Homo sapiens: one gene and its partner. The protein of the gene in region 1 purifies or fractionates together with the protein of each later gene. This does not show direct contact. Each region holds a gene or a part of one and is shown on either strand. Other genes may lie near its edges.

Region 1 (8,261 bases):
CAGAAACAGAAGTCTAAATCTTAACATTTTTAAGAAATAATTATTTCCCACAAAAACCATGATAGGATAGCACTCTTCTATCTATTACAGTGGTTACAAAACTGGAGGCCTATGGTTTTTAAAAAAATTTAATTGCTGTTAGGTGGGCATTCTGTACTCTCCAGTTCTCTACAGCACTCTTCCATGTCTGCCTAGATTTGTGAACTGTTCCATGAAGGCATCTGAGTTTGCAAGCTCTGATTTATAAGTCACAAGGCCAGGCTATAGATTACAGAAGTAGATTTTGAAGGTTCATGCTAAAGCTTCCCTTTTCATAGACTAGGGCCCAATTTAAGAAATGTTAACCAAGACCCAGCTCAAGCATAATGAAGTCTTTCCTATACTCTGCCTTCGACTTCCCTCCAAATGTAATTACTGTACTATCCCATCCAATGATTAAACTTAGTATAAGGCCATCTCCATTTTCTCATTTTTCTTCAGAATGTTTAGAGAAGAGATATAGCTACTGTGTGTGTGTGGGTGAGGGAAGGAGAACAGAGAAGAGCTGATGATAATGATGAAGCAAGAGGAAGGAAGATGATCACATTAAAACTATAGTGTCCTAATTTTCATAAAGCTGGCCCAGATCAAATTCTTTTGAACACAATTGAATAATGTTCTAGCAAGAAAGGCATTTAGAGGTGAATAATCTAATCCAAGCCCCTTTATCCTTCCAGAAAAGGAAACTGAGCCTCAGAGACTATACAAGGTCACAAGCTAACCAATATTGTTTGTACTACTCCATCATGTTCTCTTTTCATAACCTAGTCCTACTTTCCAAACAATGGAAGCTGTGATCAATGATGTCACTTCTACTAATAGTTCCTAAAAATGTTTCCATTTGTAACTGTATTATTTCATCTAATCTACAGAAGATTACATTCAAATTTTGTTCTTAAAATTTCTGGCAAATTCAAGAGAAATTTTTTACCATTTGTTAGCCTAGTAAAAATGAAAGCAATTGAGTTGGTAGTGGAGGGGGGACAAGCAAAACAAATATTTTATTACATTTTGTGTAATAGTCTTAATTAACAGGCCAATCTTCAGGATGACTCGGTATTAAATCAGGCATTTATTAATTTAGCTGCCACACAATTCAGTATAATAGCTATCTACTCTTTCAGCTGGGACAATGCTTGCCAAACTTGCCATTTCACATACCACCTCAACAAGTTTGGCTTGCTGTATCTGCCAACTGCCCATACTAATTTTGTATTTATCTTTATATTGATTTAAAATCCATTCCTTTTTAATACTTTGCCTGCTCTAAGCCATAACATCTACTAAATCACAAGCCTGATGTGCTGATTTTTCTAATACACAAGAAAATAATTACATAGCTACTAAAATACGTCCATGGACATACCATCTAAACTCATGTCACGTGATACCAGCGATATTCTTACTGTACTTTAGATGAGCTGACCCTGGGCTGACTGACAATTTATGATATGAGTAAATAATAAAATAATTATTCTCCAATATCTGAGTTGCTAATTATTCAGATTCTTAGTAATATACCAGAAATGCAGGGTCCCATCACCAATTTCAACAGACAGAAACTCAGGAAGCCTAGGTTTTCAGATTTTATCATGCATAAGAAATATATGAGACACTTGTTTCCCTCCCTCAGACACTCTGATTCAGTAAATCTGGGATGGAGCCCGGGAAGCTGCATTTTTACAGGTGCTCCAGAGAATGCTGTCTTGGGAAGACCCAAGGGTCACATTTTGAAAAACAGTGGATGAGGCTGGGTATGGTGGCTCACACCTCTAATCCCAGCATTTTGGGAGGCCGAGATGGGAGGATCGCTCGAGCCCAGGAGTTCAAGACCAGCCTGGGAAACGTAGTAAGACCCCATCTCTATAAAAAAAAAAAAAAGAAAGAAAGAAGAAGAAGAAAAAGAAGAAAAAAAAAGATCGAAAAGCAGTGGATGGGAATGGGGGTGGGACAAAATCTTAAAATCACTCTAGCTTTTCAATAGGATGACTTGAGTTCAAATCCCAAGTCTAACTGTATGACCCTAAGCAAGTCATTTCATCTCTCTAGGCCTCGGTTTCCTCATCCATTAAATGATGATTGTAGTAATAGCTACCTCAATGGACTTTTTTAAAGAAGCAAGATCTCTCTATGTTGTCTAGGCTAGAGTGCATTGGCTTTTCACAAGTGTGACCACAGCACACTGCAGCCTTGAACTCCTGGACTCAAGTGATCCTCCCATCTTAGCCTTCCAAGTAGCTGAGACTACAGACCACCACACCCAGATTCACTAGGTTGTTTTAAGGCTTAAATGGATGACATGTCAAAAAGCATTACAAAACCCCAGAGCCTGTATGTGTTAGAGGGTTGATGATGATGATGATGATGATGACATAGAACCATTCTCGACAGCCTGTTACAACTCAGAAGACAATCAGCATTTCAAATAAGATGCCAAGCATTCTGCTCCACATAAACATCTGCTCCCATTTAATTACTGATGTTGAGTTTAATCTATAATAAATTAGCCCCCAAATTAAGTGTGTATTTCAAATAAGACATTTACACAACAGATAATTTCAAATATCAGCTGATGACTGCAACTTAAATCCTCAAGGAACTTTATCTGGCTCTTCAGGGTCAACCCCATGCAATAGCTCCCATGCCAGAGGGGTCCCAAAGGCCCATTTTGGTTACCCTGATTTTAAGAACTACTTTATAGGGAACATGTACAATTATCCTTGTGGTTTAGAAATATTTTATGTATTTATTATGTAAAAAAAAAAACTCTCCTTGAAGAAAGTGTAACAACCCCTGAGTTATAAATTTAACACCAACTTTTCAGATTTGGCTGCAGGGCAAATATAACAAAGACAATTATAAAACATGCCCCCTTACAATAATTCATCAAAGACTTTAGCTATGATCTGATGTAGGAACTTAAAATTTAATTTCCAAAAGAAAGAAAGCCTTATTTTTTCTGAATACCATCTGTTCAACCATTCCAACATGAGCTAATTCAGCTACACAAAATTTGTAAATAGACTGAGATTGAAAAAACTTAGTTGCTTCATGTTAAAGTACAGATTCAGTCTGATCTATTCATGCAATGTTAGAAAGCTATGCACACAGTCGACATTCAATCTTTTATAGGACACACACAACACTAACAACTATTCAACCTTAATGAAAACATTACAGTTAACTCATAATTGTCCATAAAGAAAATCACCCCGAAGTGTGAGAGCTATTCTCTGCTAAAATGGGTTCTTAAGTCTCTCTACTCAGCGGGCAGTTTCTCAGCTAAGGTGCAGGCAATAGGGCAACTGGAACTGATGCGATCCGCAGCTGCTCAGTGACCAGCCATTCACGCATCAGTGATGCAGCAAATGCTTCTCCCACCTGGAGACAGTGTGTTTGCCCGACCAGGTTTTAAGGTCCAGGAGCCCCAGCTGCTCTTTTATGGGCAAACATGAACACCACATAGCAGGAAAAATGATTAAGAAATACACTGTCACTCTTCTAGCTGGGCAGATTATCCAATTTCTGCTAATCCACAGCTATGCCTTCCTTTGGTAGGCATAATCAACAGCATCTGCCAGTTTGGATGAGGCAAGAGACAGCACCATAGCCAAATCTCAATTAATTGGCCTCCTGAGCCTGTTTCTGCACTTGTTATTACCCTATGAGCTCTAAAGAGGAACTGAAGATAAAGCTCCTAAACAAGGAGTACCTATTAAGAATTAATTAGGATCTTTACTGTAATTCTTGATATTTGTAAGATTTGATGTCTGGCAAGGACCATGATATTGAGAGACTATTAACTAATGGTAGTCTGGGATACCAAATGCATTTTACACACACTTGTGAAAAATCAATCATCTCTTACTAGCAGGAAAAATGACCACTAATAAACAGAAACCTCAACTTAGGCAAACATCAGTACTGAAATATAAATGTGATTTCATTTAATATACCTATTAATAGTTTATTGACATTAAAACAAAGTTAGTCTTTAGCCTTAACAAAGATGGAACAAGCGATTTTTTTGATTTGTTAATTGATTCAATATTTATTGAGCAACTGTTATGCTCCAGGATTGTGCCTGGGAAGCCAGTGGTAAAACTGCCCTAGTCTCTGCTGACAAGGAGCTTATCACTTAAATTTAGAATAAGCAGGGAATCTAACTTTTAAAATGAACAAAAAGAGATTTTCACTTCAGTAAGGACTGAAAAATGAGGCTGCCCATACAATACTCTTTTGAGATTCTGGAAGGGTTTTTATACATTCTAGTATCACATGTTAATGCTGAATACTCACAGATAATACATAAATTAAAAAATTGTGAAGTTAGGGAAGTATTGTACATCAAGATATTTCCTGAAACTCACAATACTAACAAAGAAGCTATATGCATTTATTATTATAAAATGGAACTTGATTTTTAAAAGAATCATTGTCATCTAAAGACAGCTTCTCCTTTCAATTACAAAACTATGACTACATGTACTGGATACTGGTAAAATTTCTCTTCTACATTTCAGATCTAACAACAGAGAACCTTTCATCCTTATTCTCGAGCAAATGGCCATGTTGCATCAAAAGGCCAACAGCTCACTTGAATTAAAACTGCAAAGCTTCTTGGCTACTTAGCATACTGAAAATGAATTAAACACTCAATGTTGCTTACCTTGTAATCTCTGGACACATTTTCTGATGTCACTGAACCTGAAATCTGACTAGAAATTGTAGCAGCTATAAGCTGTTTACACCATTCAACATGTGATCCTGTGGGACTAAAAAAAATAGCATGGATTACAAAACGTTATATCATAGGATCTCAGTGAAAAAATTAGCACTGAATAGGAATATGATAACACTTCTTTTTTTAGATGAACTAACTAGACTCTTTGGTTACCTTCACATTTTATGTAAGAACTGAAATAGCGACTGACAACTAGGAAATAAGATTAGATTCCAGGTTAATTTTAAATGAATCACCCAATTTTCTCAAACAAAGTTGAAGATTCTAGGTGTTAGTTAAGCTTACTATTCTCTACCATTTAATGGAATTTTACTCTATTAAAATTATATGGAAGAAATACTTCTTTTTTTTTTTGTGAGATGGGGTCTCACTCTGTCACCCAGGCTGGAGTGCAGTGGTGCAATCTCAGCTCACTGCAACCTCCCAGGTTCAAGTGATCCTCCCACCTCAGCCTCCTATGTAGCTGGGACTACAGGCACATGCCACCAGGCCCGGCTTTTGTGTGTGTGTGTGTGTGTGTGTGTGTGTGTGTGTGTGTGTGTGTGCGCGCGCGTGTAGACAGGGTTTTGCCATGTTTCCCAGGCTAGTCTCGAATTCCTGGGCTCGAGTGACCCACCCGCCTTAGCCTCCCAAAGTGCTAGGATTACAGGCATGAGCCACCACACCCAGCCGGGAGAAATATGTGAAATATTTATCTTACAGCATAGGCTTTTCAAACATTCAATCAATTTCATGTTGGTAGTTTTAAATCTAGAAAATAGTGTACTTTTGAGTGAAGCAAAGTGACTCAGAAAAGTAAAGCTGAACATGAGATTTATAAATTACAGCCTAGAAAAATGATGTTCTCTGTGTAGTACTAACAATACCTTACACTTCTATAAGTGCTTTGACAACTTACAAATGGTTTTTATTTTTTATTTATTTTTTTTTTTGAGACAGAGTCTTGCTCTGTCACCCAGGCTGGAGTGCAGTGGCGCGATCTCGGCTCACTGCAAACTTTGCCCTTCTGGGTTCAAGCAATTCTCCTGCCTCAGCCTCCCTAGTAGCTAGGATTATTTAGGCGCATGCCACCATGCCTGGCTAATTTTTGTATTTTTAGTAGAGACGGGTTTTCACCATGTTGGCCAGGCTGGTCTTGAACTCCTGACCTCAGGTGATCCACCCGCCTTGGCCTCCCAAAGTGCTGGGATTACAAGCACAAATGGTTTTTATTATATCAGAGCCTCACAACCATGGTGTGATGAGAAGGCAGAACAGGGACTAGCCGACTTGTCTTTGAGGAGAGAAAATCGAGGCACAGAGGTGACATGCCCTGTGAGAAAGTGGCTGTCCTCAACAGGACATGGAACAACCAATAGCGACTGACTCACTGCACTGAAGCCAGCAGCACAGATGCGAGCCAACCGCTTTACATGAAAACACAGCAATGCAAAGAAAATGTCATCTTTCACTCCCACAGAGCTCTGAGGCATCAAAGCATTTTCACACACGTAGCCTTGCCCAGCCTCACAGTGACCCATTTTACAGATGAAAAAATTAAGGTCCAGTTTTGCCCAAGGTCACACGACTGGCAAGTGGTCAGGCTGTACTCACCTGACCTGAAAGACCACATAAGCCAACTAGCGCAGTAAGAGATTTAACAATTGCCCCCAGAGGCCGGGTTCCTCTCACAATTTGGCAAAACACTAAGAAATCAAGCTAGAGGGCTAAAAACACCGACAAAAGTTTACCTTGCAGGTAGCTTTCACTGTAAAGAATGTTTCAGGCCTTTAAAAAAAAAATCATATCACTAATTAAACCCACACTCACATATCTGAAGGACAGAAACACCTGGAATCCCCAGGCAATATGGAAAATGACCCAAATAGTAAAAGAAAGAAAACTGAAGTTCTGTGCTAGTGATCCAAATTGCAGTCTCTGATCAAAACAGACCAGAGGTTATCTGTATGGTTGAAAATACTGAATGAGCAGAAATTCCTATCACATGCCAGGAATCTATATACCACAATTTCGACCTGAGGGGGAGAAGGAGAGAAAAGGGAGAGATTTGTTTCCTTTTTAAAGGTTAAGTCACTTTCATTCCCACGTATATCATACTTTTCTTGTCATAATGCCTTTTTCTGTCAGCACCCACCAGTTGCAAATACAGGAAGAAACTGCAGAAACCCAACTGCTGAGCATGAGTGTGACCTGCTATTACCACCTGCCTGCCCGGCATGCCTTCCCCCTTCTTCTGATAAAGACCTTCCTCTTTACTTTGGGAACTGCCCTTCCCCACAACACAGGCTTCTGTGGGGGAAAGCGGAGAAGAAGGTTGACCCCTTCCTCCACCTGCTCCCACTTGTAGGTGAGTTACCTAGGACCAGCCAATCCCAGACTTTTCCCCTTGGATCCTGAAATACATGGATCTGTATCCAGAGCTGCTGGAGGCCACTCCCCACCCCACCCCACCCCTACCATCTTAAGGAACTCACAGCGATTAAAAAGTGAGGGAAAATAAAAGAGAGAGGGAGAGAGAGATGGGGAGTCCCGACAACACTGTTTGCAATCCTGACCTCAACTGTGCCTGTGGCCATCTCTCCTCCTGTCTGGAGCAGTTCTGTGAGCCAGGGCATCTCATTTGCCTTAAGCTAGATTGAACTGTGGTTTCTGTCACCTGCAACCAGAAGCATCCTGGCCAATGTAGTTACACACAGTGAAGCACAGTGGGTTAGCAGACAGGAGGCCTGGACATGAGTCCTGCTTCTGTCACCAGCTAACTCCATGATCTTTGGCAAGACACATCCTCTTACAGGACCACAGCTTCCTCATTATTAATTACAGTATTCAGAAGAGAAGTGAAGGCCCCATAGTCCCAGGGACATGGCCAAGTCCCACCCATAGAGCCAGGTTCCATTCTAGAGGTCACTCTTCAAAGAAAAGTGTGAATCTGAGCTTGTTGAGCTGACAGAACTGAGAAAGGAGGCCATGATTCCTCCCCCATCCCTTCTCTGTAGTCTGTGCAATTGCCCTCTATACTCCTGGTGTCAATAACTACTTACAGGCTGGAGGCTCCCAGCTCTGTTTCTCCAACCTGGACTCTCCTGATCTCAATGCTGATGTTCCTACAAGACCTGTCCACTAGTCTGGCCCAGAGACCCTGCCAATTCAACCTGTCTAAACCAGCATCAGCCGCTCAGCCCCGCAACCTACTCTGCTCCTGTGTTTCCTAACTCAGGGCGCAGCACAGCCAGTTATCCGGCCCCCACACGCTAGAAAGCTGAGGTTTGCCTTGGAGTCCACCCGGCACTCCCCCCTCACATCTGAATGCTCACCATGTCGGGTCACTCTTACCTGGTAAGCATCTTGAAAATCCACCCAGCCCTATTCCTAGCCCAATTCCCTTTTCCAGACCTCCATCATTCTTCTGTGAACTCCACCTGCCTCATGAATTTAAGCCTCATCTATAAGCCCATGACTCCCCAGTTTGAATCTCCAG
Region 2 (7,166 bases), on another chromosome or scaffold:
GGGTGTGCTGACAGCCGGCTGTTAAGCCCTGCCTGCCCCGCGCCAAAGGAAGTGACTGCTGCCCCAGCCGTGGCTGTGCCCCCCGAGGCTACTGTGGCCATCACCACAGCACTGAGCAAGGCTGGCCCCGCCATACCCACCCCAGCAGTCTCTTCTGCACTGGCCGTGGCGGTCCCCCTAGGGCCCATCATGGCAGTCACAGCAGCCCCAGCCATGGTGGCCACCCTGGGGACAGTGACAAAGGACGGGTGAGCAGGTTGAGTGTGGGGGTAGGGGGTGTGGACAGGGCCCGCAGCCCGCACGGTTCCAACCCCACCCCATTCCTGCAGGAAGACAGATGCCCCGCCAGAAGGAGCTGCCTTAAATGGCCCAGTGTGATGCTGCTGCCGCCCGGCCACGGCCCACCCTGGTCAGGCTGCCTCCTTAATCGAGAAAACTACCTGGTGATGCAATCTTTTTTTTTTTTAATTTAATTTAATTTTAAAATAAATGCTGCATTGGTAAAGCTGGCAGTTGAAACCAGTTGGACGGCCCAGCTTGCGTCTCTTCTGCCTGAGTGGGCCTCTCAGGTCACTCGTGCCCTGCTGGAGGACAGAGGGGCACCTCAGCCGCCCCCAAGCCCAGAGCACAGCAATAAGGTCGGCCTGCAGGAGCCGGGGTGGGGGTGGGGGTGGGGGGGGCAGGACCCTGAGATGCCACCAGGACCTGATGGGCCAGGAAGGGCGTGGACATGGAGGCTGTTTTTACAGTTTTTTTTTTGTTGTTGTTTTGTTTTTAAAGAATACAGAAGGAGCCAAGCTTTTTTGCACTTTGTATCCAGCTGCAAGCTCAGGGCAGAGTCAAGGGCCTGGGTTGGAAAAACCTGACTCACAGGAATGCATAATTGACCCTTGCAGCTACCCAATAGCCCTTGGAGCTGGCACTGAACCAGGCTGCAAGATTTGACTGCCTTAAAAACACAAGGCCCTCTAGGCCTGGCAGGGATGTCCCTGTGCCCAGCACAGGGTGCCTGGCAGGGGGAGACCACAGGTATGCAGGTGGGGGGACATGGTGTGGCACTAGGGGCTCGAAGACTGGTTTCTAGCACTACCGGTCACGGCCATGTCGTCCTAGAAGGGTCCAGAAGATTATTTTACGTTGAGTCCATTTTTAATGTTCTGATCACCTGACAGGGCACCCCAAACCCCCAACTCCCAATAAAAGCCGTGACGTTCGGACAAACCGCGTACTGTGAACCTTCCGGCCCCAAAGCCCCGGCCCGGCCAGGGGTGGGAGAGTCTCCTCCAGCACCTCTTTTGTGGGCCCGCCACCCCCCAGCGTTATCCCCGTGTAATGGGTGGAGGCGGAACAGGCCACATCACGGCATCAGGTCTCTACAGCTTAGCAAATACTGACATTTTTCCGTTTGGGGGATGGGGGGAACCACTTCGCCTAACGCTCAAACACATCAACCCCAGGACTTCCTTTTGTGCCAGCTCCCCCTCCCAGAAGCCTGGGCCCCACCTTGTCCTCAGTGGCTGAGTGGGAGGGGCAGGTGGAGACCAGACCCCCACCCCGCCCCAGCGAGCTTGTCTTTCCACCACGGTTGGGGGTGGAGGGAACCCGCTCAGCTCCCCAGAGGCCGAGTCTCTGCCCCAGCTACACATTGAGTGCCTTGTTCTCGCCGCCTACCCTGTGCCTGGCATTTGTCCTCTCCCCCCACAGACGTGGAACAGGGAGGGCAGGGTCCTTTCTCCCCTTACTCTGACCTGTGGGTTTTCCAGGTGCCAGGAACTTCGGTCAGGCGCCATCTGTCCGGCCTGAGGGAAGACCTGGCTGGTTTCAGTGGCTCAAGTGAGCCCACCCTCACATCTCGCCCAGGTGTCCCAACACCACCTGTGGGGTGGGGGAGGTGGCGGGACCATGCTGGGCCTGACAGGGTCCAAGGCCATCCTTGGCTTCAACGTCCCACCAGGGGAGGGTCTTGGCCCCCCACCTGCCAGCACTGGGCCCTGCCTCTGCAGCTGTCATCAGAACCTTCCCCTCACCCACACCTGCTGCTCGCCTCCCACCTGAGAGGACCACCTGAGGGACCCAGCCTCTAGCCAGGTTCTCTGCCCCTCACCAGCCCCTCTGGCCAGGTCACCAGCTGCCACTCTCAGATGTTCTCTTGGCCTTTGCAGCGTCTATAACCCTCCCCACCTTCTGCTCCTGCACCCCTGGCCAGGCCTCGTCACAGGCAAGGACACAACAGCTCAGCAGGTGAAGCCCTGGGCCTGGTGGGACTCAGGTTTGAATAGGAAAAGAGCAGTGAGGGGCCACAGTGACACCAAGAAGGGAAGGACGGGGGCCCTCTGAGACCCCAGGGAAAGGACTTTTGGGGCAGAATTCCCAAGAACTGAGAGGGTCCATCCCCCATGGGCGTTGGCCCCTTACTCTGCCAGATGCTGCTCGTTGCCTGGCAGGAGCCAGATGTGGTCAACCTGCATTCCCCTGGGAGCCCACTGTCCCCCCCCCCCCCCCGCCTCCGGCCTCCATCCCTTCAGCTCGGGTCTAGCCAGAAACTGACGTCCACCTCAAGTGTCCTCTGGACCTGCAACAGCCTTCTGGGGTCAAATGACCACCCACCCTTTCACCCCCAAGCCTCTGTGAGGTCAGCTTCTGCATCCCCTGGGTAGGGATGGGGGCTTCCTCTCCAGCCGTGCCGGCCCCTAGACCAGCCCTGAGGCGTGGAGGGAATCAAGCAAGTCCCCAGTGAAGCCTCCTGCTCGATCCGCCCCCAGAGCAAAGTCACTCCCAGGGACATGCAGGCCGAGCTGGGTGGACCCAGGCACCAGGAGAGGCTCACGAGAAAGATGCCAACCTCCCGCCAGGTGGGCCTGGATAGGGGCAGATGGGACCCTCTGGGTAGGCCGAGAGCAGGCAGCCGGGGAGTGGGGAAGGCAGGCACAGGAGCGTGGCGTTAGTTCTCTCTTTATATAGACTCTGGTTCTAGAAACTCGCCTGCAGCCGCTGGCTGGACCAGCACACGCTGACGGGGCCGGACTATTTACAGGCCCATTGCGGGCTGTACCTTGGCCACCTCCCGGCACGGTGCTCAGCTGTGACGCCAAAATAAGTTAGGGCCGGCCGGGCGGGGCGGGGCGGGGACGGGGGCTGTACACACAAGTGCTGGGGGCTCGGGGCCTCAATACTGTCGAGGGCCGGGGCTGTAAACATGGCCGGGGCGGCCCTGCCCACCCCTAGTGGTCGGTAACGACCGGAAGCAGAGCAGCCGGGCAGGGCTGGGAGGCTCAGGCGTCCGACAGGCAGCTCTGGATCCGGTCCACCCACTGCTGGGCCGAGGGCACGTCCTGGGCACAGAAGTTGTAAACGCGACGCGTTGTCTTCACCTGGGGAAGGGCGGGTTACTGACTCCGCAGCCCCCACACCGCAGAGCCCCTCCCCTCTCCCAAGCCCCGGCCAAGGCTCACGTCAAAGAAGGCCTTCTCGTCCACAGTCTTAGGGGCACCCATAGTGGGCGTGCCAGGTGCCACAGCCTCCACCTCCGCCAAGTCGATGACACCCTTGCACTCTGTGTCCACACGGTGGTCGTAGTAGCGCAGCTGGAGGAGGCCACAGAGTCAGCGGAGCCCCCTCCCCCGTGAGTCCCCCCCACCACCTGATCACTCACCTGGTGCTTGGTCTTGTCCAGCACGAACCAGCGGGCCTTCCAAGGCTTCATGAAGGCCCCCTTCTTGTACAGAGTGCCCTCGTAGGACCTGCATTTCCAGCAGAACCAGGGCCAGGCTGACCGTCATGGCCCAGCCAAGCCCAGGCCCCAGCAGTCGTCCCCCCCTTGCTGTCCCAGCCCAGGAGGTAAGACCAGGCACCCTGTCCCCAGAACTGACCTAAGCCCAGAGCACTGGCCAGGGGGCCACAAAGAAGCCTTTGATGGGGGGCTGCAGGCCCAAGAAGACGACGCCCAGAAAGGAGACAGTGAAGGGCGCCTCACACCCTCCAGACTCCAGGGAGCATCCCCACACCAGAGCCTCAGGGTCTTGGGAAAGCAGCCCCCTACACAGGGCAGGCGCCCTTACGAGGAGAGGGATGGCCAGGCAGGTAGATCTGTAGAAGCAGCCACGGCAGCAGCTGCCTGGGATGGATCCTGCCAGACTCCAGACTCACGGGGGCCCCACCACTGCCCTCTCTCTACTCCTCCCTCAGCCACTGCAGGCTGTGGTCAGCTGTGGTCACCAGTTCGACACCCCAAACCCCTCCCAGTGGTGGTGTATACTTAAGCAAGCTCCTCAAAAGCACCCGCAATCTCCCACCAGAGGACTGCCTGGGACCCCAGAACACCAGCTCAGAGGTGTCCATGTGGCAGTGGGAGGTGCCCTCATACCTGTTCTCACTCTCTGCTGTCTGGAACTGGCTGTACAGGGTGCTGGTGCTGCGGCGGGCAGCCTGACGGGAGCCGGATGTGGTTGAGCCACTACTCTGGTCGCTGTCCAGGCTGAGGCTCAGGGTGGAGCCCACGGGCCCCTCCTGCAGGTACACACCCAGCGAGCGACGGTGGTGGGGTGCGGTGGACACAAGGAGGGAGCTAGGGGTGCCCTGGGAACAGGAGGTTGGGACTTGGGTCAGGGCTGGACAGACTCCACTTTCTCCCAGCAACACGCCCACCGTGGACGCTCACACTGGCCCTCACTCACACGGCCGTCTGGCCGGCCCTCGAGGCGCTGTGCAGCCTTCACCCGGTCCCAGGTGTCCTTCCAGCGCTCAGCGGGTTGGCCCAACTCTGTCTCCAGCCTCTGCAGCTCCTGGGGGAAGAATTAATGGCAAGTTTATTCAAAAGGAAATATCCAGACTAGAGCACGAAAAGACAAAAGGAAAACACAGGAAAGAGACACAACGGAAAGGCCTAACGCGTGTGTGACTGGCCACAGGGGGAGGTGGCAAGAGGGAGGGAAGGAATATGCAAAATGAATATTCGGAGACAACAGTTGAAAAATTTCCCAAACTAACCAGAGGCATCAAACAACATAATCAAGAAGCACTACAGACCCCAACAGGGTAAGTTAAAAACACACACCCCGGCCAGGCGTGGTGGCTCACGCCTGTAATCCCAGCACTTTGGGAGGCCGATCACCTGAGGTCAGGAGTTTGAGACCAGCCTGACAAACATGGAGAAACCGCATCTCTACTAAAAATACAAAAAGTTAGCCCAGCATGGTGGCGCACGCCTGTAGGAGAATCGCTTGAACCTGGGAGGCGGAGGTTGCGGTGAGCCGAGAACGCGCCACTGCACACCAGCATGGGCAACAAGAGCAAAACTGCTTCTCAAAAAAAAAAAAGACCACACAATACTGATCTTCAACACTGCAGGGTCCACAATGTCCAGCTTACAATAAAAGAACAGCAGAAAAATGGAGAAAAACATTAAAATAGACCCTGAAATGAAACAGGAGTTAGAACATACAGTAAATTCAAGAGAGTGATTTTAGGGCCAGGCGCGGTGGCTCACGCCTGTAATCCCAGCACTTTGGGTGGCCGAGGCGGGTGGATCACGAGGTCAGGAGTTCAAGACCAGCCTGGCCAAGATGGTGAAACCCCAACTCTACTAAAAATACAAAAATTAGCCGGACGCAGTGGCAGGCACCAGTAATCCCAACTACTCAGGAAGCTGAGGCAGGAGAATCACTTAAACTCAGGGGGCGGAAGTTGCAGTGAGCCGAGATCACACCACTGCCCTCCAGCCTGGGCGGCAAAGTGAGATTCTGTCTCAAAACACACAAACACACACACACACACACACACACACACACACCCCAAAATGGGACAGAAAAACTGCTGAAAAACAAAGAGAAAAGTCCCAAAACCTGCCAGAAGAAAAAAAGACATGCTCTCTTTGAAAGAGCAACAATAAAACTGACGGCTGACTTCAAAAGAGAAACACGAGGCCAACTGTCAACTTCCAGCCATGACAGATAATTAGTCTGAACAGCCCTCCCTCCATATGCAAATGATGAAACTGGACAAGAAGGGGAAGCCGTTGTTTCCAGATGTCAGACAAGCAGTGCAGCTTGAGAGACAGGAGCCTAAGACATGGGACCACATAAGATGGGCCCCACAGTCACCTGTTTTCTGCCCAGCCACAGTGCAGGGAGGCAGGGCCAGAGCAACACACGGGAGCTTGCTGAGCCGAGGAGGCAGAGACGGGACGTCCAGGGGCGCTAGTGCAGCTGGGTCTGCAGGGCAGCCCACAGAGGGGAGGGAGCACCACAGCAAAGGGGCTCTAGAAATCTAGACAGAGCCCTCCTTGAGTCGTTGGCCAAATTAGGCTGCCATGTGCAAAGCAAGATGTCACAAGGCCTGGCAGAGAACAGCTACTAAGAAGCTATGACCTGACGCCGGCAGCAGTGGCTCACACCTGTAATCCCAGCACTTTGGGAGGCCAATGCGGGTGGATAACCTGAGGTCAGGAGTTCAAGACCAGCCTGGTAAACATGGCAAAACCCTGTCTCTACTAAAAATACAAAAATTAGCTGGGCATGGTGGCGGGCACCTGTAATCCCAGCTACTCGGGAGGCTGAGGCAGGAGAATTGCTTGAACATGGGAAGTGGAGGCTGCAGTGAGCCGAGAGTGCGCCACTGCACTCCAGCCTGGGAGACAAAGTGAGACTCTGCCTCAAAAAAAAAAAAACAAAACTATGAGCTGAACCCAAATTCTAGAGGAATGCTAAAAGATACTGGACTTCCAAAAAGCCAGTGTGGCAAGACCTTACCGAAGACACAAAGACACAAAACTCCAACTGAAGCCCTGGAGAGGCCACACGCCTTGGGCTGCTCTATCCCTGGAGCTTCTCTAGAGGTGCTGGAGAGCTGCCCAAACAAAGCTTAGAAACAAGCTTCAAACAGACCAAGCTGACGCACAAGCTCATTACCTACCTGCGAGAATAAAACCCAAGACTCTAAGCTTAAAGAAAGACAACACAGGCAGGGCACAGTGGCTCCCGCCTGTAAGCCCAGCACTTCGGGAGGCCGAGGAGGGAGAATCGCTTGACCCAAGGAGTGTGAGAACAGCTTGGGCAACATGGCAAGACCCCATCTTTATATATATTTTTAAGTTATGTTTCAAGATTTAAAAGAAAAGATGGACATAATGGTTTATCAGATGGGGAATCTCTACAATAAAAAGCGTTAAA

What was found. The genes of interacting proteins can lie anywhere in the genome.
Region 2: the proteins of MTMR1 (region 1) and SBF1 purify together in Homo sapiens (affinity purification with mass spectrometry; 4 studies listed by BioGRID and IntAct, with this or other methods). This does not show direct contact.

The regions. Positions count from the first base shown.
Region 1 is NC_000023.11:150,695,748-150,704,008, reverse strand, and holds part of MTMR1 (phosphatidylinositol-3-phosphate phosphatase MTMR1), read right to left. Parts: intron 4,815-8,261; coding exon 4,709-4,814; intron 1-4,708. UniProt on the Homo sapiens protein: Lipid phosphatase that specifically dephosphorylates the D-3 position of phosphatidylinositol 3-phosphate, generating phosphatidylinositol. Could also dephosphorylate phosphatidylinositol 3,5-bisphosphate to produce phosphatidylinositol 5-phosphate.
Region 2 is NC_000022.11:50,443,870-50,451,035, forward strand, and holds the end of SBF1 (myotubularin-related protein 5), read right to left. Parts: intron 4,782-7,166; coding exon 4,674-4,781; intron 4,576-4,673; coding exon 4,364-4,575; intron 3,741-4,363; coding exon 3,653-3,740; intron 3,585-3,652; coding exon 3,453-3,584; intron 3,372-3,452; coding exon 3,273-3,371; 3' UTR 1,131-3,272; downstream 1-1,130. Other genes in the region: PPP6R2 (serine/threonine-protein phosphatase 6 regulatory subunit 2), read left to right, coding at 1-248, 330-378. UniProt on the Homo sapiens protein: Acts as an adapter for the phosphatase MTMR2 to regulate MTMR2 catalytic activity and subcellular location. Promotes the exchange of GDP to GTP, converting inactive GDP-bound Rab proteins into their active GTP-bound form.